3 separate regions of the Homo sapiens genome follow, and all the other regions are linked to region 2. The links come from fine-mapping of genetic effects on gene expression. A gene starts in region 2. Each other region holds a variant in brackets. All regions are shown on one strand. Distances are from middle to middle.

What was found.
Region 1: its variant is fine-mapped to the expression of MVD in whole blood (INTERVAL, PIP 0.97).
Region 3: its variant is fine-mapped to the expression of MVD in lung (TOPMed, PIP above 0.99).

Annotation. Positions count from the first base shown.
Region 1 is chr16:88,555,635-88,563,807 of GRCh38, reverse strand. ZC3H18-DT (ZC3H18 divergent transcript) reads left to right here and starts at 1,825. Exons shown (of 3, transcript NR_146877.1): 1 at 1,825-2,304; 2 at 2,437-2,557; 3 at 3,083-3,705. The variant C/A (reference allele first, on the strand shown) is at 4,445.
Region 2 is chr16:88,659,445-88,667,617 of GRCh38, reverse strand. MVD (mevalonate diphosphate decarboxylase) reads left to right here and starts at 4,527. Exons shown (of 10, transcript NM_002461.3): 1 at 4,527-4,607. The coding sequence starts at 4,538. It overlaps SNAI3-AS1 (SNAI3 antisense RNA 1), which reads right to left and starts at 4,245. Exons shown (of 4, transcript NR_024399.1): 1 at 4,218-4,245. RefSeq lists silencers at 3,863-4,022, 4,363-4,782 and an enhancer at 4,233-4,282.
Region 3 is chr16:88,691,079-88,699,251 of GRCh38, reverse strand. RNF166 (ring finger protein 166) reads left to right here. Exons shown (of 6, transcript NM_178841.4): 4 at 167-281; 5 at 643-750; 6 at 1,619-2,751. The coding sequence ends at 1,684. Among named protein-coding and RNA genes, the nearest start is that of SNAI3, 8.7 kb to the right of the region's middle. RefSeq lists a silencer at 7,314-7,363. The variant G/A (reference allele first, on the strand shown) is at 4,059.

The DNA.
Region 1 (8,173 bases), 100 kb after region 2:
ATGGTTCACTGCAGCCTCAAACTCTTGGGCTCAAGCGCTCCTCCCACCTCGGCCCTCAGAGCAGCTGGGAGTACAGGTGTGCACCACCATGCCCAGCTATTGTTTTCGTTTTTTGTAGAGATGGGTTCCCAGTGTGTTACCCAAGCTGGTCTCAAACTCCTGCGCTCAAATGATTTTCCCACCTTGGCCTCCTAAAGTGCTGGGATTATGGGCATCAGCACCATGTCTGGTGATCTGGTCCCTTCTTCTTTTTTTATTTTTATTTTATTCTTTTTTGAGACAAGGTCTGACTCTGTTGCCCAAGCTGGAGTGCAGTGGCATGAACAGGGCTCACTGCAGCCTCAACCCCCTGAGCTCAAGTGATCCTCCCACCTCAGCCTCCCTCGTCCCTGGGAATACAGGCATGCACTCCCGGCTTCTGGTCCCTTCTAAGAGCATGCCTTGTGCTATGGTTTGAATGTTTCTCCTAGACTTTATGTGTTGGGAACTTAATCTCCACAATTATATGCTTTTGGAGGTAATTAGGATTGGATAAGGTCATCAGAGTGGGCCCCCATGATGGGACTAGTGGCCTCATAACAAAAGAAACGGGCCGGGCGCGGTGGCCCACGCCTGTAATCCCAGCACTTTGGGAGGCTGAGGTGGGCGGAGCACGAGGTCAGGAGTTGGAGACCAGCCTGGCCAATATGACAAAACCCCGTCTGTACTAAAAATACAAAAATTAGCCGGGCGTGGTGGCAGGTGCCTATAATCCCAGCTACTTGAGAGGCTGAGACAGGAGGCAGAGGTTGCAGTGACCCAAGATGGTGCCACTGCACTCCAGCCTGGGTGACAAAGCGAGACTCCATCTTGAAAGAAAAGAAGAGAAAGAGAGACTTGGGCTGGCGTGCTCTTGCCCAGCGCCATGCTCTTGGACCTCCAGCCTTCAGAACTGTAAGAAACAAACCTCTCTTCTCTATAAATTACCCACTCTTAAGCTATAGCAACAGGTAACAGACTAAGACACCTTGTAACTTTTCTTATTCTTTTTTTTTGCTCTGCGATTACAGGCATGAGCCATCGCGCCCAGGTTAGCCCTGTCCAGACTGGCTTTGGGGGTTACAGCCCTTGTTCCCAGGGAGTGGAACTTCTGTGCTCCCAAGGGAAAGCCTGTGATGGTCACCAGCCCCCGCCCCCCACAGGGCTTGGTCTCCAGCCCGTCGCAGCTGCCAACACCCCTGCTCAGCTCTCCATCCTCCCGGGAGCCTTTTCTGTTGGGTTTCTTGGAGTTTCTTGGGGGCATATTCAGCTTAGGGGGCGGCCACGGCCTGAAGGGGATTTGCACTCAGGGCTTTGGGCTCTTTCTCCAAGTTCCCTCAGGCCCCAGCAGGTTTGGAGCCTCAAACTCTAATCCCTGTTTCTCAGCTCGGCAAGGCTGTGCTTTCTGTTTTTGGACCTCCACGCCAATGTGGGAAGATGCCCCACAAGGAAAACCAGGCTGAACGTGGGCTCACTTTCTTGTTTATGTTCGCTCAAGGGATATAGCCCCGGGCCCCACCAGCGCTGGTTACTCCCCACAGGCCCCGTTACATGCGTGTATCACACAGCGAAGCGTGTGTGTCCAGCCTGTATCCATGTCTTCAGCGGGAGGCCGAGTGCCATACCAGCGGTTCTGTCTGAAAGCATTTTACGAAGGATAGCCCTTGCTATTTCCTCAAAGAGCCACCAGAGGGCACTCCCACTCCGCCCAGCCGCTGTTCCCGGGGGGAAGGGGGGATGGGGGGGTGAAGGGTGATAGAGGGGTGGGGGGGTGGGGGGGTGGGGGATGGGGGATGGGGGGGTGGGGGTGGTCCCAGGCCCTGGACTGCAGGTGAAACCTGCAGGAAGCCCTGTCTGTTCTGTGTGGGACCCCCACTTCCATCATGGCCCCCACCACAGACACAGTGAGTCCACTCCAGTCCCTGTCCCAGCCTCTGGAGGGATGCTGGCTCTGACCCCATCTGGCCCCCTGCCTTTCCCTCGAGATGTCCATGGGCCCCCAACTCTTTGACGAGGTCTCAGACACCCCAAGGAGGCCGGGGAAAGGATTCCCGGCGCAGCTGAGCTTGAGGCTGGGGGCTTTTCTGTTGTTTCTGCAGCCCCAGGGCCTGGCACCGTAGGACCTCTGCAGGCTGGTGGGGGTGAATGAATGATTGATTGATGAATGAATGAATGAATGAATGTCAGTTCAGCTGCCATTTCACCGCCTGGAATTTGGGACTCGGACTGGCTTCCTGGCTCCTCAGCTTGCAGACGGCCTATTGTGGGACTTCACCTGGTGATCATGTGAGTCAATACTCCCAGTAAACTCCCCTCCATGTATACATCTGTCCTATTAGTGCTGTCCCTCTAGAGAACCCTGACTCATATACTGGGGGTGACGTCAACGCTGCTGTGACTGTCATTTTCTGGTTCTAGAGAAACAGTGGACCCACTGAGACCAAGGGCAAGGGGAGGAAAGGCCCGGGGTAGGGCTGAAGACACAGGTTCCAGGCCCAGCTCTGCTGCTCACCGATGAGGCTTCTCCTCTGTTGAGCAGGTACAATCGTAGGGCCCTACTCTTGAGCTTGCCGTGTGGGTTGACGGTGGCGGTCCACATACGAACACTCAGCGTGGTGCCTGGCATGCAGACAGGGTTCTGTAAATCTCGGTCGTCGTAGACGATTCCATTTATTACCACCGAGCACTTCATGACCCCTTTAGGCAAAAGACTTCCCTCTCTGGACCCCTGCCTCCACTTCTACGTGGTGGCGGGTTCAGGACTGATGGCTCTGTAGCTCCATCCCATGCCATTTCATTCCATTTTCTTCCTTAGCTTCTCCATGTCTTGGCTTCTCTGTTGGGGTGATTTCAGCACCACATGGAGGACAGCAGCCTGGGAGCTGTCCATGGAGCTGAATTCATGGGAGGGCACCTGGTGGAGAAGGCGGGGTCGGGCTGGAGGTGGGGGTGGGAGGGAATCAGCAGGGGATGGCCAGAAATGGAGGGAGCTTGCGTCCATTGGGCACAACTGGGTCTTCCACGCCATGACAGCTCATGGAGTCAGCCTTTCCTGTCGTTCCAGGTAGCCCCAGTTGGGAGCTGAGGTGTGTTGATTGGGGCTCTGGGAACCATAGCCTGCCAGCTGTGGCTTGGCCATCCCCTCTGCCAGCGCTTTCCCGCCCATCAGCCCTTTTCTCTGGAGTCCCTCCTTCAGCCAGGTCCTGAAAAGTCATACCTTTTGGCCAAGCTGCTGAAAATACTACTCAGCCAGAACTCATGTGCTCATGCCAGCCTCATTCATGACACCCTCCAAACCAGAAACAGCCCAGGAGCCGATCAACAGCTTCATGGGAAAATGTATTGCAGTCTATCTCATCGCCGGGCCCTTCCGTGGCCGTGGAGACGGGCGAATCATGGTCTATCCCGTCGCCGGGCCCTTCCGCGGCAGTGGAGACAGGCGAATTGCAGTTATGCGCAGCAAGGAAGCCTCTCTCAATCACATTGAGCAGAAGTGGCCAGGCTCAATTCTGTGGAATTCTGTGTGGATCACAAACAGGCAACATAGAGGATGGTGTTTTGGGGTGCATGTTGAGGGAGAGACGGGGTTCTCTTCATCACAATGGTGGCTGGCCTCCAGGAAGGGAGGGACAGTGGCTGGGAGGCCAGGGGCCTCTGGGATGCTGAAAAATTCTTTTTCTTCTCCTTCTTCTTCTTTTTTTTTTTGAGATGGAGACTCACTGTGTGGCCGAACCTGGAGTGCAGTGGTGGGACCTCGGCTCACGGCAACCTCTGCCTCCCAGTTGAAGTGATTCTCATGCCTCAGCCTCCTGAGTAGCTGGAATTACATGCGCCTGCCACCATGCCAGGTTAATTTTTCGTATTTTTAGTAGAGATCGGGTTTCACCAGGTTGGCCAGGCTGATCTCGAACTTCTGACCTCAGGTGATCTGCCCACTTTGGCCTCCCAAAGTGCTGGGATTACAAGGCATGAGCCACAGCACCCAGCCCAGAATGGTTAATTTTATGTTATGTGAATTTCACTCAATAAAAAAAAGACAGGAAGGGGAAAGAAAGAAAGAAAAGGCAGGGAGCCGGGCATGGTGGCTCATGCCTGTAATCCCAGCACTTTCGGAGGCCGAGGTGGGTGGATCACGAGGTCAGGAGATTGAGACCATCCGGGCTAACATGGTGAAAACCCGTGTCTACTAAAAATACAAAAAATTAGCCAGGCGTGGTGGTGGGCGCCTGTAGTCCCAGCTACTCAGGAGGCTGAGGCAGGAGAATGGCGTGAACCCAGGAGGCGGAGCTTGCAGTGAGCCCAGATAGTGCCACTGCACTCCAGCCTGGGCGACAGAGCGAGACTCCGTCTCCAAAAAAAAAAAAAAAAAAAAAAAAAGGGCAGGGAACACCAGGGGGCCCAGGGGAGTCAAGGTGCCTGTGAGTGT[C/A]CCCAGCAGCCCACCTCTCCTCCCCTCCCCCCAGCCTGCAGGCCCCGGAAGCACAGGGCTGTGCCCTGGAGAAGTCTGGAGTGACTTTTAAAACACAGATATGGGGACCCATCCGATTCTGAGTTTCTGGCCAACAGCGCTCCGTGTGGTTCAGAAGTTGTATTGTTTCAGGACGGAAGCAAAGTCCAGCTAACAGCTGTCAAGGGCTGGCCTCTTGCTGGGGCCTTGGGCCCGACTTTCTCCTTTGCTCCTCCCAAAGGCGCTGGGAAGCAGGGTGCTGATGGTAAAAAATGAAGCTCAGAGAGTTTCAGTGCCGAACTCAACATTGCACGACCAGGCACAGGAGGGCACGGGACTCACAGCTCCGGAGCTTGAGGGGACGCGGGACTCACAGCACCGGAGCACGGGAGGGCATGGGACTCACACTCCCAGAGAACGGGAAGACAGGGGACTCACACCCCCAGAGAATGGGAGGACACGGGACTCACACCACCATAGCACAGGAGGGCATGGGACTTACAGCGCTGGTCCATGGGAGACGCGGGACTCACACCCCCAGAGAATGGGAGGATGCAGGACTCACACCCCCAGAGTACAGGGGGACATGGGACTCACACCCCTGGAGCATGGGGGGATGCGGGACTCACACCCCCAGGGAACGGGAGGATGCGGGACTCACACCACCAGGGAACGGGAGGATGCCTGACTCACACCCCCAGGGAACGGGAGGACGCAGGACTCACACCCCCAGAGCACGGGGGGAACGCGGGACTCACCCCCCCGGAGCACCGGGGGACGCGGGACTCACCCCCCCGGAGCACGGGGGGACGCGGGACTCACCCCCCCGGAGCACGGGGGGACGCGGGACTCACCCCCCCGGAGCACGGGGGGACGGGCGACTCACCCCCCGACGGGGGGATGCGCGACTCACACCCCCGGAGCATGGGGGGACGCGGGACTCACCGCACATCTTTAACTCCTAATCCCATCTGCTGGGGAGGCTGCGGCAGGATGAACGCTTGAACCCAGGAGGCAGAGGTTGCAGTGAGCTGAGATCGCGCCACTGCACTCCAGCCTGGGCGACAGAGCGAGACTCTTTTGTCATTTCCCTTTTTACTCAATGGCTACTTTGGTTTTTCTTTTCTTTTTTTTTTTTGAGATGGAGAGCTGGAGTGCAGTGGCACGATCTCTGCTCACTTGAACCTCCGCCTTTTATGTATTTTCAGTAGAGAGAGGTCTAGAAGGCTCAGCTGCAGCCGCCTGCCCCGCAGGGCATTCCTGGCCCAGAAAGGGTAAAATCAGACTCTAAACTCATTCAGCTGAGTGGCTTGTCCTGGGTCTGCTGTAACAAGTGACACCAATGGGCGGCTTAAAGCCACAGAAGCTGGCTGGGCACAGTGGCTACACCTGCAATCCCAGCACTTGGGAGGCTGAAGCGGGAGGATTGCTTGAAGCCAGGAGTTCAAGTCCTGGCTGGGCAGCATAGTGATACCCCCATCTCTAAAAAAAGATGGTGCACGCCTGTAGTTCCAGCTACTCTGGAGGCTGAGGTGGGAGGCTTGCTTCAGCCCAGGAGGTCGAGGCTACAGTGAGCCGTGATTGCACCACTGTCTCAAACGACAACAATAGTGACAACAAAAACACTCAGAAACATATCGCCTCACAGTTCCGTAGGCCAGATGTCTGATAGCAGAGTCATGAAGTGGAACTCGAGGCACGGGCAGGGCTGCAGGCTGCAGGGAAGGCTCCCCACGGCCTCTTCCAGGTTCCCAGGCCTCAGGCATCCGTGGCTCCCGTGCCTTGAGGCTGCATAGCTCCTGCTCTGCCTCTGTGGTCCCACGCCTCTCCTCTTCCATCTGTGTCCAATCTCCCTCTGCCTCCCTCTCAGGAGAACTCATGATCACGTCGGGTCTGTCCAGATGCCTTCTTTCTCTCCATCTTTAACTCAATCATGTCTGCAAAGACCTTTCTTCCATTCTTCCACATACAGTCACGTTCACAGGGTTAGGGTTAGGGACATGGATGTCTTTTTTTTTTTTGAGACGGAGTCTTGCCTGTGACCCAGGCTGGAGTGCAGTGGTGTGATCTCGGCTCACTGCAAGCTCCGCCTCCCGGGTTCACGCCATTCTCCTACCTCAGCCTCCCAAGTAGCTGGGACTACAGGCGCCTGCCACCACGCCCAGCTAATTTTTTGTATTTTTAGTGGAGACAGGGTTTCACTGTGTTAGCCAGGATGGTTTCGATCTCCTGACCTTGTGATCTGCCCGCCTCGGCCTCCCAAAGTGCTGGGATTACAGGCTTGAGCCACCACGCCCGGCCAGGGCACCCAGCCATTTTCAGTGGCCACATCACGTGTGAGTGAGGGGACCAGTTTCTGAGCGGGGACCCTGGTTTCTGAGCCCCCGTGGTGTGCTCAGTCCTTGTGAGGTTATGGTGAGGTAAGAATAGTGGCCCCCAGCGTGGAGCCTGTTTCCATTTCTCTTTTTCTCCTTCTAAGGCAGTACAGGCGGCCCAGCTGTGCCCTCCCGAGCAGGTGAGGCTGGCTGAACCCTCTGGGTTTTCCATCCTTGCCTGTAAGTAGAGCTGAAAACAGCACTTTCGCCCAGGTGCTAGGAAACGAGATGCTGTGTGTAAAGTGACTGGTGGCTGCCTGGCCTGGTGGTAAAGGTCCCGGAAATGGGTGACTGTGTGAGTCCAGGCTCACACTGCTCTAAAGAACTACTGGAGACTGGGTCATTTATGAAGAAAGAGGTTTAATTGGCTCACAGTTCCACAGGCTGTGTAGGAAGCATGGCTGGGAGTCCTCAGGAAACTCACAATCATGGTGGAAGGTGAAGGGGAAGCAGGCACGTCCTCACATGGCGGCAGGAGAGAGAGAGAGAAAGTGGGGGGCGGGGGAAGTGCCGCATAGTTTAAAACCATCAGATCTCGTGAGAACTCACTATCTGAGAATAGTGAGGGGGAAATCCACCCCCGTGATCCAGTCACCTCCCACCAGGCCCCTCCCCTAACCTTGGGAATGACAATTCGACATGAGATCTGGATGGGGACACAGAGCCAAACCACATCAGTGGCTTTAGGGAGATCTGAGTAGCAATGAAGGCATGGCCCGCTTGGGAGAAAGTGTCTGCAGGAAGCGCCTTGTGAATTCTGCGGTGCTCACCATGGGCTGGGCGGGTTTTCAGTGGGGGCAGCAGGGCCTTGGAGATGGGGCCACACTCTGGGGAACCCTTTGGGTCGGGGAGTGAGCCCCGCTCTGTCTAGACATAGGCAGTCCCAGCACAGCAGAGGGCGGTCCTTAGGTCCGGAAGGGGGCACAGTCAGGCGCGAATTCTGGGCCCTGAGCTGGGGCCATCATCTCCTCCCGAGAGAGAGCACAGGTGCCATTGCAGGTGCTGCTAGGGTGCTGCGTGCCCTCCGAGCTTGGCGACGCTCCACTGAGCTGTGTGAGTCTCCGTCCTGGGCTCCGTGGAGACCAGGATGATAATAAGATGAGGACCAGTGGCTTCCAGGAGCCCCAGTCTTAGAGGTGGAGACAAAGAGCTGTGGAGGGGCTGGGGGTGGAGAGGAGCCAGGGGGTGGGCAGAGGGGGTGGGGATGGGGCGGGAGGCATGGAAGGGGCAGGGGAGAGACGAAGGGCCACTGGAGCCACATTAAGACAGAGGGGAAGTGTTAAGACTTGGAGCTGAAAATGCTGGGAATTAAGCGGAAATTCTGCTAAAAGTTTAT
Region 2 (8,173 bases):
CTTCCCCTCCTTGCCCCAACACCAGTCAGGGCCCACCCACGGGCTCCAGCTGTCTGGCTTCCCATTCATCTCCCAGACCCTCTCCCCTCATGAATCAGTGCCACACACAGCCTACCCATACCATACTCAGCAAAGCACCCATGCCTGTGGCTCAGGTGCGGTGGTGTGATCAGAGCTCACTGAAGCTTTGAACTCCTGGGCTCAAGCGATCATCCTGCTTTAGCCTCTCTAGTAGCTGGGAGTACAGGTGTGCACCACTACGGCCAGCTAATTTTGAAAAAATTTTTTTGTAGGCTGGATGCGGTGGCTCATGTCTGTAATCCCAGCACTTTGGGAGGCCTAGGCGGGTGGATCACGAGGTCAGGAGATCGAGACCATGACCATCCTGGCTAACATGGTGAAACCCCGTCTCTACTAAAAATACAAAAAAATTAGCTGGGTGTGGTGGTACACACCTGGAGTCCCAACTACTTGGGAGGCTGAGGCAGGAGAATCACTTGAGCCTGGGAGGCGGAGGTTGCAGTGAGCCTGGGAGGCGGACGTTGCAGTGAGCCTGGGAGGCGGAGGTTGCAGTGAGCCGAGATTGCACCACTGCACTCCAGCCTGGGCAATGGAACAAGACTGTGTCTTAAAAAAAAAAAAAAAAAAAATTTTTTTTTTGTGGATATGGTGGAGTCTCGCTATGTTGCCCAGACTGGTCTTGAACTCCAGGCCTCAAGCAGTCCTCCCAAATCCCAAAGTGCTGCTGGGCTTACAGGCATGGACCACCATGCTTGGCCTATTTTCGACACACATACAGGCTGAGGTTCAGGAGAGCTGGGCTACAGGCGTCAGGGTGGGGATCGATGTGTGACATCTTTCAGGGAGGTAGTTTATCCTAGTTCTCCACTCAATAAGGGAGTCTGCCCACAAGCACACTGTCGGCACCCATTGCTACATGGCTCAACTGTGAGTATAACTTAGATAATTGTAATAATGAAAATAAGGAATGCTGATGGAGGGATAGGATAAGAAGGTATGTGACTGGGAGATGGAAGAGAATTCCTTATTTCTATTGAGTCATAATCAATAGAGGTTATCTAAAACTTAAAAAAATAGGGCCAGGCACAGTGGCTCACGCCTGCAATCGCAGCACTTTGGGAGGCTGAGGCGGGCGGATCACAAGGTCAGGAGATCGAGACCATCCTGGCTAACACAGTGAAACCCCGTCTCTACTAAAAATAACAAAAAAAAGTAGCCGGTCGTGGTGGTGGGCGCCTGTAGTCCCAGCTACTTGGGAGGCTGAGGCAGGAGAATGGCGTGAACGTGGGAGGCGGAGGTTGCAGTGAGCCGAGATCACGCCACTGCACTCCAGCCTGGGTGACAGACCGAGACTCTGTCTCAAAAAAAAAAAAAAAAATAATAATAATAAAAACGCCAGGCATGGTGGCTCACGCCTGTAATCCCAGTGCTTTGGGAGGCCGAGGCAGGCGTATCACTTGAGGCAAGGAGTCTGAGACCAGCCTGGCCAAACATGGCGAAACCCCGTCTCTACTAAAAATACAAAAATTTGCCGGGCCTGCTGGTGCACGCTTGTAATCCCAGCTACTTGGGAGGCTGAGGCATGAGAATCACTTGAAACCAGGAGGCAGAAGTTGCAGTGAGCTATGATTGCCCCCCTGCACTCCAGCCTGGGTGACACAGCGAGACTCTGTCTAAAAAAAAAAAAAAGAGCAGCCTGGGCAACACAGTAAGACCTCCATCTCTACAAAATAAAAAATAAAAATTAGTCAGGAGTGGTGGCACTTATCACAGCTACTTGGGAGGCTGAAGTGGGAGGATCACCTGAGCCCAGGAGGTTGAGGCTGCTGTGAGCTGATGGTGCCATCGCACTCCAGCCTGGACAACAGAGTGAGACCCTGTCTCTAAACAAAAATAAATTGTTTTTTTTTCTACTGGACTTAAACAATCTGCCCTCCTTGGCCTCCCAAAGCACCAAGCCTGTGTCTTCTTTTTCATCACAGCCGTGGCAGAAGGAAGGAGGTGACTGGAAGCCCCACTCTCTCTGAGTAGCTGAGGGAATACACCCTGACTATAGGCCGAGACAGTCCACATCAGCTCTTCAATAGGATTTAGTGGCTTTGCATAAAATGGAAAAGCAGCTGTGATTGCAAGAGAAATTAAAAATAACCACCATCTGAAATGCAAATTGAAAACAGTGAGACAACACATGTCACTCTGGCAGGTGACCCACTGTGCTGGTGAAGGCATGCAGGCACTCTCAGACTTCCGCAGAGAGACCTGAGTAATCAATTGACTTCCACAAAGGGCGACTTGCCAACAGCTATCAAAAGTACTCAGGCACATCCCACTTGGCCCAGCAATTCCACTTCCAGGAATTTCTCCTGCAGAAATACATGTGCACAAACAACGTAGGAAAGCACTGTTTATAGTAACAACCCAACTAGGACAGACCAGGTATATTTAGACAACAAACAAGGAAGCTTTTTACTAAATTGGGATGATCTCTAAGAAGAAGGTACGTAGAAAAAGCAAGGTGGGAGAACACGCTATGTGCTTGTACTATGCACGTCAATGAAAAAATACACAAAGAATTGACAGGCCAGGTGGAGTGGCTCACACCTAATCCCAGTACTTTGGAAGACTGAGATGGGAGGGTTCCCTGAGGCCAGGACTTCAAATCAGCCTGGGCAACATAGCAAGACCCCCCCACATCTCTACAAAAAAATTAAGAAAAAAATTAGCCGGGCATGGTGGTGTGTACCTGTAGTCCCAACTACTGAGGAAACTGAGGTGGGAAGATCCCTTGAGCCAGGAGGTCGAGGCTGCATGGAGCTTTGATCGTACCACTGCCCTCCAGCCTGAGCAACAGAGTGAGAAAAAAAACAGACTTTTTTTCTATTTCTGGAAAAAAATAAAGAATTTATAAGTATGATGGTTCTGGTAATAGAAGTAGGTGGCTAGGCAGAGTGGACACTTCACACTGCATACTCCCCTATTTTCCGAAATCTGAGTTTTTTTTTTTTTTTTTTTTTTTTTTGAGATGGAGTCTTGCTCTGTCACCCTGGCTGGAGTACAGCAGCACCATCTCGGCTCACTGCAACTTCCGCCTCCTGAGTTCAAGCAATTGTCCTGCCTCAGCCTCCCCAGTAGCTGGGATTACAGGCGTGCACCACACGCCCACCTAATTATTGTATTTTTAGTAGAGACAGGGTTTCACCATGTTGGCCAGGCTGGTCTCAAACTCCTGACCTCGTGATCCGCCCACCTCGGCCTCCCAAAGTGCTGGGATTACAGGTGTGAGCCACCATGCCCAGCCAATCTGAGCTATTTAAAAACTAAAGGTAAAATTTTAAAAGGGGAAGGGGAAAATGGGAAGTCATTGTTTTAAGGGGACAGAGTTTCTGTTTGGGGTGAGAAAACTCTAGAAATAGTGGGGGCGTGGCACATGATTGGAATGAATGGCAGGGAACGGCACGCTTAAATGTTCCTGTACGTTTCACAGGAGAAGTCAATGCACACACAAGCGCCGCAACCCAGTCCAAGGCTTTGCTCCTACAGGGCCTTACAGGGGGTATTTGAGACGCCCACCTTAATGCAGGTTGGACCCAGCTCCGGGCTGCGGGGCTTCCCCGCCCCGGGGTCTTTCGTGTGAGCCCCGTGGCGGGGGATCCTGGCCCAGGACATGGCGCGGAGAAGGCTGTGGGCGGCGGGACAGGGTGCCTTCGGCTGCCGGGTTAAGAGTGGATCCCGGGATACATCCTCCAGCGCCTGCCCTCGGGCCTGTGTGCACCCCCATACCCAGCGGGGCCGTCCAAGAGCTTCAAGGAGGGCACAGCGCGACCCGCCCTCCCCTCAGCCCCGCACACCGTCCCACGGCCCCGCACAGCCTCCCTCCCACACAGCGCCCCACGGCACCCGCACAGCGCCCCACGGCCCCTTCATGGTCCCCGCACAGCGCCTCACAACCCGCACACAGCGCCTCACGGACCCTTTACGGCCCCCGCAGAGTCTCCCACACGGCGCCCCACACAGAGCCTCACGGACCCCGCACAGCGCCTCAAGGTCTCCGCACAGCCCCCAGCACAGCGCCTCACACAGCCCTTCGCACAGCCCCCCGCACAGCTCCTCACGGGCCCCACACAGCTGCCGCACAGCCCCGCACAAGCCCGCACAGCACCAGCAGACAGGTAGCCCCCACAGGCAACAGCGCCCACCTCGCCGCGCCCAGACCCCGGATCGCCGACGCGGACGCCAGGCGCCTGGGCACACGGCGCCTGCGCAGACAACACCACGCCCCAGGCCTGGCGAGCGCACCCTGCGGGTGGGGCGGACCTACGTCAGCAACCCATCGTCCGATCCCGTCCATTGGCTGAGAGGTAATGCGTGCGCCCGACTCGCCGCTGATTGGTCGGCGCGCGAGCAGCCGGGCTCGCACGGGCCAATCCTGTGGTAGCGCGTGAGGAGGCAGAGGCCTCTGGGGTGGGATCGCGGGCCGTAAGTGGCTGTGGAGCTGGGGTCACTGCGCGGTGGGACCATGGCCTCGGAGAAGCCGCTGGCGGCAGTCACTTGTACAGCGCCGGTCAACATCGCGGTCATCAAGTACTGTGAGTGCCGCGGGCCGGCCTGGGACGGGGATGGCCGGGAGCGAGGCCGGGTACGCGGGGGTCGCGCGCTGATTCGGCGGCGCGCTCCGTCCTGCCCTCCCAGGGCCTCGACAGACGGGGAAACTGAGGCTCAGGGAGGGGCGCGGCGGTGGTCGGGCGGGGCCGCGCGCTCCTTCGCGTGACAAGCTCGGCGCCACCCGTTCCCCCGCGACGGCTGCCGCCCCTGCAGGGTCGCCCGGCGCCTGCCCATTAGCGATTACCGAACTATCGAAATCATCAATCATCGATTCCCATGAATCGTAAGAATCCGCCGTGGTGGTGCGCGTTTGTGGCTCCAGCTACTCGGGAGGCTGAGGCGGGAGGATGGCCAGAGCCCGGGAGGTCGAGGCTGCAGTGAGCGGAAATCGCGCCACTGCTCCCCCAGCCCGAGACCCTGTGTCCCTCCCTCGCCCCGTTTCTCCCAGCGGTAACCTCCAAGGAGCGGTAATGGGGGGCCCGCAGGCCCACATCCGTGCCGGGGAGGCCGGTCCGCACCTGTGCGTTCACAGCCCCGCCCCTCCCCTCGCGCCGGGGTTACCTGGCCGCCACTGACCACTCATTTCTGTAACGTCATTTCAAAATGTTCTGAAACTGGAATCGCAGTTATGTGGCCCACCCAGTATCTTTTGAGTTTGGCTTATTTCATTCAGCATAGAATGTGGACGTGCCCCGGGATTGTATCAGTGCTTTGCCCCTCTGTTGCTGAGCCAGTCCGTGGAATCCATGGACCACCCTCTCTCTAGCCAAGGCCTCACCCCGCAAAGAGCATCTAACGTTTTCTTTCTTTCTTTCTTTTCTTTCCAGAAGCCGCCACCACGACTGGCTAATTTTTTTGTGTTTCCCTTACCAATAAAGCTGCCATAAAATGTTGTATACAGGTTTTTGTGTGAACATACATTTCCATTCTTCTGGGATAAATGCCCAGGAGTGCGGTTGCTGGGTCAGATGGTAGATATATATATATGCCTCTCTGTCTCTCTCTCTCTTTCTATGTATATATGTATGTTTGTGTGTGTGTATATATATATACACCTGTATAGATATATGTGTGTGTATATGTATACACCTATATAGATGTATGTGTGTGTATATATACATATATATATTATATATATACTTTTTTTTTTTAAAGAAACTGTCTAATTGTTTTTCAGAGTGGCTGGGCCATTTTGCATCCCTACGGTGATGCAGATTTTCCGCATCCTCACCAGCATTTGGTGGAGTTGCTGTTTTTCATTTTAGCCGCGTCCTGGTAGGGATGTGCTGGCAGGGTGCTGTGGTCCTCATTCGCGTTTCCCTGTTGGCCAGTGACGTGGAGCATCTTTCTTTGTGCTTATTTGCCATCTGTGGGTTTTCTTGGTGAAATCTCTCTTCATATTCTGTGTCCACGCTCGAACTGGATGGTTTGCTTTTTTACTATAAGTTTGGAGAGTTCATTACACATTCTAGGCTGGGCACGCTGGCTCAAGCCTGTAATCCCAGCACTTGGGGAGGCTGAGGTGGGCGGATCACCTGAGGTCAGGAGTTTGAGACCAGCTTGGCCAACATGGTGAAACCCCCGTCTCTACTGAAAAAAAATAAAATATGTATTCTAGATATTAGTCTCCTGTTGGACATGTGGTTTGCAGGTATTGTCTCCCAAACTAGCTAATCTTTTTGTCCTCTTAACAAAGAGCCAGTTTTTCATTTTAAAGAAGTTCAGTGTATCAATGTTGATGTCAAGTCTAAGACCTCTTTGCTTAGCCCTATGTCCTGAAGATTGTCTGCTTTCCTCCAAGTTGTACAGGATTGCCTTTTATATTTAAGTCTGTGATCCAAGGTTGTCCAGTTAGCCCAGAAAGGCTATCCTTCCTCTATTGAATTGCTTTTGCACTTTTGTAAAAAAAAAAATCAGCTGGGCATGTTTGTGTGGGTCTATTTCTGGATTTTCTCTTCTGCTATTTTTTTTTTTTTTTTTTTTTTTTTTGAGACAGAGTCTTGCTCTGTCACCCAGGCTGGAGTGCAGTGGCACAATCTTGGCTCACTGTAACCTCCGCCTCCTGGGTTCAAGCAATTCTCCTGCCTTAGTCTTCTGAGTATTTGGGACTACATGCACGTGCCACCACACTTGGCTAATTTTTGTATTTTTAGTAGAGATGGGGTTTCACCGTGTTAGCCAGGCTGGTCTGAAGCTCCTGACCTCGTGATCTGCCCACCTCAGCCTCCCAAAGTGCTGGGATTACAGGTGTGAGCCACCGCGTCTGGCCTTTTATTTTTATTTTTTATATTTATTTATTTTATATTTATATTTTTATATTTATTTGTATTACTTTTATATTTATTTTTTTGAGACAGACTGTCACTGCGACACCCAGGCTGGAGTGCAATGGCGTGATCTCGGCTCACTGCAACCTCCGCTTCCCGGGTTCAACCGATTCTCCTGCCTCAGCCTCTCGAGTAGCTGGGACTACAGGTGTGCGCCACCACACCTGGCTAATTTTTGTACTTTTAGTGGAGACGGGGTTTTGCCATATTGGCCAGGCTGGTCTTAAACTCCTGACCTCAAGTGATCTGCCTGCTTCGGCCTCCCAAAGTGCTGGGATCGTAGGTGTGAGCCACTGAGGCTCACCAACAGTGATATTTATGGAAACGTGTCCATTTTCTTGTAACGTTCAGAGACTCTGGTCTTCTTTAAACCTTACGTTTGAGCTGGTTTTTGATAGCGCGCTGGTGGAGGAGGGGGTGCTGGCTCAAGATAAGGAGGCAGAAGTCCAGGTTCCCCTCCCCACCAACGCTGTCCCATCCCCACCAGGCCCTCAGGAATTCCTGAGTGTCTGCTTGGCCTCTGACAAGAGCCGGCAGGTCAGGGGAGTCCAGTCTCCCGTGTGCTCTCCAATGACTCCTGGGGAGGTGAAAGTCCCCACTCCTTCAGGGAGGGAAAGGGGGCGGGGCACTGTTCCAGCCTGGAGTGTGGGAGGGATCTGTTTCTTTTTTTCTTTTCTTTTTTTTTTTTTTTGAGAAAGGGTCTCCCTCTGTTGCCAGGCTGGAGTAAGGCTGGAGTGCAGTGGTGCCATCTCGGCTCAGTGCAACCTCCGCCTCCCAGGTTCAAGCGATTTTCCCGCCTCAGCCTCCTGAGTAGCTGGGATAACAGGCGTGCGTCACTACAGCCTGGCTAATTTTTGTATTTTTAGTAGAGATGGGGTTTCACCATATTGGTCAGGTTGGTCTCAAACTCCCGACCTCAGGTGATCTGCCCACCTCGACCTCCCAAAGTGCTGGGATTACAGGCGTGAGCCACCGCGCCCGGCCAGGAGTCTGTTTCTGTGTTGCTAGGCTGCCCTTCCTGGTCCTGCTAGGGAGGGCTGGCTTTGGTTGGCAGTTCCAGCTTCTGCAGGGCTAGGTCTAGGGCAAGCAGAAAAGAAAGCCCCGGGCTCCCCCTGCACTGTCCCACAGCCGCCCTCTGTCACCCGTGAGAGTCTCACCTGTGATGTCCAGGGTCTCAGTTGTCCCCAGTGGGAGGAAGCGGGAGAAGTCCCCTGGCCCACCTT
Region 3 (8,173 bases), 32 kb before region 2:
CCTCAGGAGGCCATGGCGTGCAGAGGCACGGGGGGCACCCAGCCACTGCCACGCTCTTGCAGCCTACAGAGGGCAGGCCTGGGGCCACGCCTGTGTTTGAGAGAAGCGGGGAGGCAGAGCCCCTAGACACCTAGCCGTGCCACTCACTCTACCCCCGCCCCGCCAGCAACATCCCCAACAGGTCCACCTTCGCCTGCCCGTACTGTGGTGCCCGCAACCTGGACCAGCAGGAGCTGGTGAAGCACTGTGTGGAAAGCCACCGCAGCGACCCCAACCGCGTGGTGAGCAGTGCCTGCCCCAAGCGACGCCTGCGCCAGGGGAGGCCTGTGGGGGACAGTACAAGGCCCAGGAGCCTGCTCGCGGCGAGTCCGGGGGTGCCCAGGCCACAAAGGCCTCCTGGGACCCAGGGTGGGAACTTGGCTGCCCGAGCAGCACCTGGCGGAAACCGGGGAGTGTCCATGAGTCCTTCAGGGTGACGCGCACTGAATAACTCGCTTGTCACCGGGACACGCGCCTCCAGGTCTGGGGTGCCTTCCCAGGCTGAGGCAGCACTGACGGGGCTCAGTGGAGGGCCCCCAGTCCTACTGCGGCTACCCCGCCTCTCCGCGGTCCGGCTCGGCTTGACCCCAGTGCCTGTTCCAGGTGTGCCCCATCTGCTCGGCAATGCCCTGGGGGGACCCCAGCTACAAGAGCGCCAACTTCCTGCAGCACCTGCTTCACCGACACAAGTTCTCCTACGACACCTTTGTGGTAGGCATCCCGCCAGCACCGTCCTCCCCCACGCCCTCCTCATCCACCCTCCTCCTGCTCGGGCCCCTCGCCAGCCTCAGGGTCCGCAGGGTTCAGAGGAAGCCAGAAACAGAAGCCTCGTTTCAGGTGGCCACATTCCCCCAGGTTCTGTGGGGGCTGCCTGCAGGTGGGGAGTGATGGCAGCTGAGTTTGAGTGGCCACTAGAGGGTGCCCAGGCCTCTCGGGGACATGGACCGCACAGGGCAGGTCCCTGCCTGCCCACCCCACAGAACCCCTCGAGGGTGAGCCAGGCTTCCTTCTGGAAGCTTTCTAGAGAGCGCGGGAAGGACTTTCATCAACATCGAACACTCCAGCCCTGTCTCCTTTTCCCACCCGCCGCGGGTCAGGCACACACCTGGCCCCCGGGCCTGCAGACCCTCGCACAAACTCCTCACTCCTGGTGCGGCCCCTCCCTGCGCCGCCCTGTTCATTCCTGGCCCTGGCTAACAGTCCTGGCGATGGCTGTCACTCCCTCTGCCAGTCGTCCGGGACCCACGCTCCGCCTGCCTCAGGATGGAAATTGTTAGAGGTCAGGGAGCCCTGGCCGGCCTGCTCACCTCGGAAACCCCGGGCTTAGAGTCCGACCTGAACCAGCAGCCATCCATTCCGAGTGCCCCCGTACCCAGCGGGTGATGGACACACCTTCACCTTCTCACCCCCCAGAGGACCGTGCAGGCCCCGAGCCTGTGGGGACAGTGGAGCTGGGTCCTTCCTGTGTCCTGCTGGAGGGAGGCAGGAAGGGTGGACACGCCTGTGTGGGTGATGGGCAGAGGGGACCTCTCCTTCCTGTCTCCCTCGAGCCCGGTGCATCTCTCCTTCCTGTCTCCAGGACTACAGTATTGACGAGGAGGCCGCCTTCCAGGCTGCTCTGGCCCTGTCTCTCTCTGAGAACTGAAGGGAAGCGCAGCCACCCGCCTGCGTCTGGGGTCAGGGATGTCCCCGCTCCTGTGTCGCACCTGGCACCTGCTCGGGAGCGCACCTCACCGGACTGAGCTCACAGGAGGAGCCTGCACCCGCGCAGAAGGGGAGCCGGGGCCGAGCCTCCGGGCCTGAATACGGGCCAGCCGCCGAGGCCGCCAGAGCAGGGCCGCCTGGTCCCACCGGCGTCGCTGGGTTCTTCGGTGCTTCTGGCCGAGCAGGCGGCCTACTTGGGCAGGGCTGGACGCTGGGACCTGGAGCTGCCGCCGTCTCTTCAAAGCCATGATACCCCCTCGTGGGAAGAAGGGACCGACGCGCGAGTCGCGCTCCGCAGTCGAGCCGGGAGGAACCCAGGCTGCTGCCCTGCCCAGCCCGACCCTGCCCCGGCCCCACTTCCACCTTGCGCATTTGGTACTGGCTTTTGTGATACTTAGGAACCCTGGCATCTTTTCTATATTATCCAGTGTGATAATCTTTTCACGTTTTATAGAGCAAAGACAGAGCAGTTACTCTTCATATTGCAATATCTGTGTTTGACTAGGAATAATAGTATTTTTATGGAACATTTACAAAATTATATTTTTTAAGAAAACAATCAAAACAAGCATTGGGGGATTGGGGCAAGGATGGAAGGAGCAGTGGGGCAGCTGCCAGAGCTCAGGCGAGCCATGGGGTCTGCTGTGGGGTCTGCCCTGGCCACCCACTGTGTGTCTGGGTCCTTGAGGTTTGTACGTTTCTCTTTGATGACCAGGAAGAAATCCCAGCACCCCAGCCACAGGCTGTGGCTGCTCCCAGCAGAGGCGGGGCCGGCAGAGAAGGGGCCTCCTCCACCCAGAGTCCTGGCCTTGGCCCGCTGTCACCTTCAAAGCTGACTGTGCCCCGCTGCGGGAGGGGACGGCACCCCAGTGGTGGCAGAGCTTGGGGGCCTGGGCAGGGGCCCGCTTGGCGGGCCGGGCAACACGTCAACATTCTTTTCTGTTCTTGGCATTAATTATTGCTGTCTTTTTTTTAAAAAAAAAAGTTTAAATAAAATGTCTCAGAGCATCTCTAGCAGCCTCGACTGGCTTTTGTGCTCCACGGTGTGGAATCGCCAGCTGCTGTCTGTGTTGGAGGTCGGCTGTGTCCTCCCCAGGCAGCTCACGCTGGGGGTACAGCCTGGGCCTGAGCCTCACTCAGCCACGGAGGGTCCCACAGAGCCACCTACACATTGGCACTGGGCCCTCCTGCCTCAGAGAGGACCACCCTGTTCCCACACCCACAGGGCTGCTGGGGTTCGGACTCCTAGGCTGCTTGCTTTTTCTTAGAGGTGGGGTGTCACTCTGCTGCCCAGGCTGGAGTGCAGTGGTGCAATCAGCTCACCACAGCCTCGATCTCCTGGGCTCAAGTGGTCCACTCGCCTTGACCTCCCGTGTCACTGGGACTACAGGTGTGCGCCACCTCAGCACCTCCTGGATTGGTTTCTGAGCATACTGAGTGTTACACTAACTGCCTGTAGTTCTCTGAGGGGCCACCACCAGGGCCATGGGATGTCCTGTTCTCCAGTGTCCAAGGGCCTCAGGCCAACAAGAATCACCTGTTCGCCAGCCAACCCCAGGGCAGCTGGTCATTATAGCTCAGTCACTGCCTCCTGCCTCCTCCCTCCCGCACTCAGTTAAGGAGTGTTTCCAGCCTCTGTTCTGGATTCCTTACTCGCAGGGGAGGTGGCTGTCCTGACCCTGAAGGCCACAGCTTGGGCCGGACACACAGGAGCCTCTGCCAGTTGTCACTTGAAGGGAGACACCCCCAAGGGAGCAGGGCTGATTTCCAGTTGCCCTCGCCAAGGGCCACTGGAGTCCCCACCTCCCCTTCCCACTACTCTTTGACCCCTGATGACATGGTCCTGTGTCTGGGAGGCCCTCACCAGGCAGCACCAAACTCCAGGGAACATCAGAGACACCTGCCAGCCTGCCCTTCCCTGTGGCCTTCCAGAAGGAGGCTCAAGACACAGTGTCCCCCGGAGCCACGTGGGCCTCTGACTGGTGCCCAGTGAGGCCGACAGTTCGCCACCTGGCCACTGGCCAAGCCTGTCTCACCCCTTGGGCAGCCTACCCGCCACCCACCTCCCAGCAGGAGCAGCGACGGGGGCAGCTCTCCACGTCCAAGCCGCCTCCACATCTGACCCGAGGGTGACACGGAGCCGTCACAAGGGCATGACCCTGGGTGCCCAGGAAGGCTGAAGACAGCTCTGGGCCCTGTCTGGGCAGGCCGTGGTCTCAACAGCAGCCCTCGGGGAGGTGATGCCTAAGTCTCTACGCCTCACCTGAGGAGGGCAAAGCACCTTCCAGTCACTGAGCGGCACCTCACTGCCCTGG[G/A]GAAGGGAGAGGAGCCGGCATGTTGTGGGAGGCATGGACTGGCTGGGGCTGGGAACTGCCTCCCCTTGCTCTGCTCTGCCCCAGGCCCCCAGTTCCGTGGCAGGTGCCTCAGGGGACGAATCCCGACTTAGGCTGGTCTGAGGCCCCCTGCTCTGTGTCACCCTCAGCTCTGAGGCCCCCTCTTGGCACCGCACTGTGACCGCTGTGCTGGGGACTCAGCAAGGCCAGGGCAGGCACTGGGCCCGGGGCGGGAAGGAGAAAGACCCCCCGGGGGCCCACTGACGCTCATGCTACGGATAGGAACGGTTTTAACATACTGCGGCCTCTGAAAGGGGCAGAAGCCTGTCCCTGTGTGCTTGTCCCGCTGGCCGCAGGCGACGCGACTGCCCTCCCTCCCTGACTGAACCGCAGCCACAAGCCTCCTACAAGCCAGCAGTGCCCAGACTGAGGGGACAGAGAGCGGAGCCCAGACAAGGAGCCGTCCCCATCACATTTGGCCTGCCCCGCTCCCAAACCCTGGGCCACCTCCGAACTCTCAGCCCTGCCGAGCACCTGCTCCCAAGCCCCGTGCCACCTGCGAATGCCGAGGAAGCAAAACCCTGTCCCCTCCTGGTTGAACCCAGGCCTCCCGCTGCTGCCGTGCCCAGGAGGGCTGTCAGAGGAAGCCCAGGACCCCCTCCTCAGGACTCTCTGTGTCCCTGCACACAATTCTGGAGGGAGCAGGCCTGTTCCCACCAGGTCCCCTCATGGAGGCCACAGGAGAGCTGAGAGCCACAGGCCAGCGTCTGGGTGAAGGTGCGGCCTCAGCTTTCCTCACGGGCCCGGCCGCCTCTCGGGTGACCTGGTGTCTGGGAGAGTCTGCCCAGGGGAGGACTCCAGAACGAACCCCAGCAAAGTGGGGAACTCAGGTCCGTCAGAGCTCAGCAGATCCTGCCATGGTGGGACGAGACCTCAGGCACGGAGCAAGACCCCTGCTCCATTTTTCTTGTTAACAAAGCCCTAGATAGAGCCAAATGTCTGCACCCCCGATACCCGTGGGGGCTGTCCCAGTGAAAGTGGGGAGGCCGGGACCCCTCCTACGGCCACACGAGGGAAGTGGGCCGAAGCCCCTCACGTCGGGGTGTGAGGGCGTGCACAGCGCCGGAGCCAGAGGGCCGCCCGCTCTGACCACCGGGGCCGCGGCAGCTCGGATGTGGACCCACCGCGCTCAGGCAGAGTCCTGGAAGCCTGGGTCTCCCTCCCACCCTGGAGTACACCAGGGCCTGACAGCGAGGCACAAAGCCAGATGTGGCTCGCCCTGGAGGAGCTGGGGCTCCTGCCCTGCGCGGTCCAGGCCCGTCGCAGACTTGGGGCAGCATGCCCTTGTTTTCACGTTATGCAGCTGCATGGGAAGCATGAACCCTGCTCCCCAGAAAGCGCGTCCAGGTCTCAGGGACCAGGGAACTTCTCCATTAGAAAGGGGTCAGGTGGGAATGGAGAGCCCCTGGCCCCAGGCCGGGCCCCCAAGAAACTGCTGATAATTCTTATACCTGGATCTCAGGAGCCACGACCAGCATTTTGGGTACTCCAAGGCGGCGGCAGCAGGGTGTGGTTCGCGAGACTCAGCCCAGGCCTTTCCAGAACTGCAGGTGTGCGCGGTGGCCGGGGGTGGGGAGGGGGTGGGGGCTCCCTCCAATAAGGGGCCTCCCAGCTGCAACTCCTCTACCCCAGGGCCCAGCACACCTGCCGCAGCAGCCTGACCCTCCCAGGATCCTCTGGGTGCGTCTGGGTGGTGCCTGAGGATTCCTCTAATTTGGGGCCACCTGGGTTTAGGCTCCTGAGGCCCTAGGGAAGGAAGCAGAAGCCACTTTTCCTGTTTCATGGATGAAAACAGATATTCAGAAAACCTGCCCCAAATCTCCTGCTAACAAGAGGCAAACCCGGCTGACATTCCACCCTGTGGTCCAGCCGGGGCACCTACTTGGCAGCCCACCTGGAAAACCCCAGAGGCCTCCATGGGGGACCCCTAACTCTGCCCAGGATGTGATGCAGGGAGGAGGAAGGTGGGAAGGGAGGGTGCCCTCAGCTACAGTCAGCCTCCTCCGATCCGAAACACCTGGGAGGACCCGGCCCCATCGAGGGATGGCCTGAAAAAGCCATCTCCGGTGTTGCTGCCTCCGCCGCCCTTCCTTCTATAACCACATCCCCAGGGTTCGCCACTCTCTAAACTCACTCTAGGAAAAAGAGGCCTAAATGCACTCAGCAAGGCATCACAATGTCAAAGGCACTTTGGTATTTTGACAAAAATAGCCTAAGGAATGCATCTCTAATTATCAGTGGGCTCTCGGGCACAAGTAGAGATACTTTTGAGAAGGAGTCTCCCAGGTTCAAGCAATTCTCCTGCCTCAGCCGCTCGAGTAGCTGGGATTACAGGCACGCGCCATCACACCTGGCTAATTTTTGTATCTTTAGTAGGGGCAGGGTTCCACTACGTTGGCCAGGCTGGTCTTGAACTCCTGACCTCAAGCAATCCGCCCAGCTTGGCCTCCCAAAGTGCTGGGATTACAGGCGTGAGCCACTGTGGCTGGCTGGAGATACATTTTTGCAGGGCAAGGGGAGACTCCACATGGCACCCACTCAGAGCCAGGGCCTCGGCAGGTAGAAGCCTGGCTGGAAGCCCACCCGGACCCTCTGACGTGCAGTCCTGGTCTTGGCCGCGGTTTGGGCTCTTCCAGTGGTGGATGGCATGCTGAACCCGGGGCCAGTGCAACCCCTGCAGAGTCTGCCGTGTGAGCTTCCCAGAGTCTCTGGAGAGGAGCGGCTGTGGCGCCAGCCCCAGGAAACGGGAGTGGCACCCACGTGGTGCTTTTCTCGGAACCCTCAGTGCACCTGCTGTGGGTTTGTGGGGACTGGGGTGTGTTCTGCATGGACAGCAGTGGCCTGTTTCCACGAGTCCCTCGAATCAGGGGCAAGCCAGGGCCTGTGGCCTCATCCCGGTCTGGACGCTGGGTCTACTGGGCCGCTGTATCAAGGGGCCACACCCTGGGGTGCCGAACACAACAGGAGTCTAAGTGTCGCCAGCTCAGGAGGAAGTCTAGTACCCAGGTGTGGGCGGGCTGTGCCATGGGGCAGGGGTGGGGGCCGGGGGCGGCCGCAGCGGCCTGGTGCTTCTTGGCTGGCTCCTGTGGTCAACACACAACTCCTCTGCACCCGCACGTCACCCTCCCCCTGCGCTCTGAATCCAAGCTTCCTCTTTTCATCAGAGCACCAGTCCTTGGATTAAGGCCCACCTAATGGCCTGACCTTGACTTGATGGGACCTGTGAAGACTCGATTTTCAATAAGGCCCCATGCCCAGAGGTTGGGGGGACCCCAGCATCTTTTAGGGGGACACAGTTCAATCCACGGTGCTGTCCGTCAGCACGCTGTCAATGCTGTCCCTGGCATTTCTGCAGGCACTGGGGCTCCAAGGACCCTGCTGATGGGGTGACCCAGGGCGCAGGCCACAGAGAAAGCACCTTTACGAAGGGCCTGTGTAACCTGCTGCTGGCCTGCATCCGGAAGGGATGCCAAGTCCCTCTCCCCCAGGGGTCCCCTCTCCTATGTCTCCCACCCCAGGTCCCCCTGTCCCAGGCCCGCCCCTGTTCGCAGGAGCCCTGGACAGTGCTCATCCGGGTCCCAGGCATGATGCGGCCCCAGCCCCTCGTCCGGCAGGCATTGCTCCCTTTGTGGCTGGACAAAAGAACACTCAGCGGGCCTGAGTTCTTCCTTCCCTCAGCTGCAGGGCGTGGCCCCACAGCCTGCCGCGAGTAAGGTGTCAGCTCCCTCACACGGCAGGTGGGAATCTCAAAGGACCCTGGCAGAGAGCGGATGGTGTTGCTGGAACCGAGCTCAGGTATCCAACTCGGCAGGACGATGCCGGGGACCCCACAGATCCCTCTCCTGGTGCCCGGGACTTACCCGCTGATGCCCAGCCTCCATGTCACCTCAGAGCAGCTACTGCGACTTCCCACACGCATACGCCCATGGACACACGCACGAACACGCCTGTGGCCTGCAGACTCACACGCACGCTGCCTCGCTGCTTGATGGCTCAAGTCTCACCTCATCTGCCGCAGGCCCAAGGGCTCCCCTCAG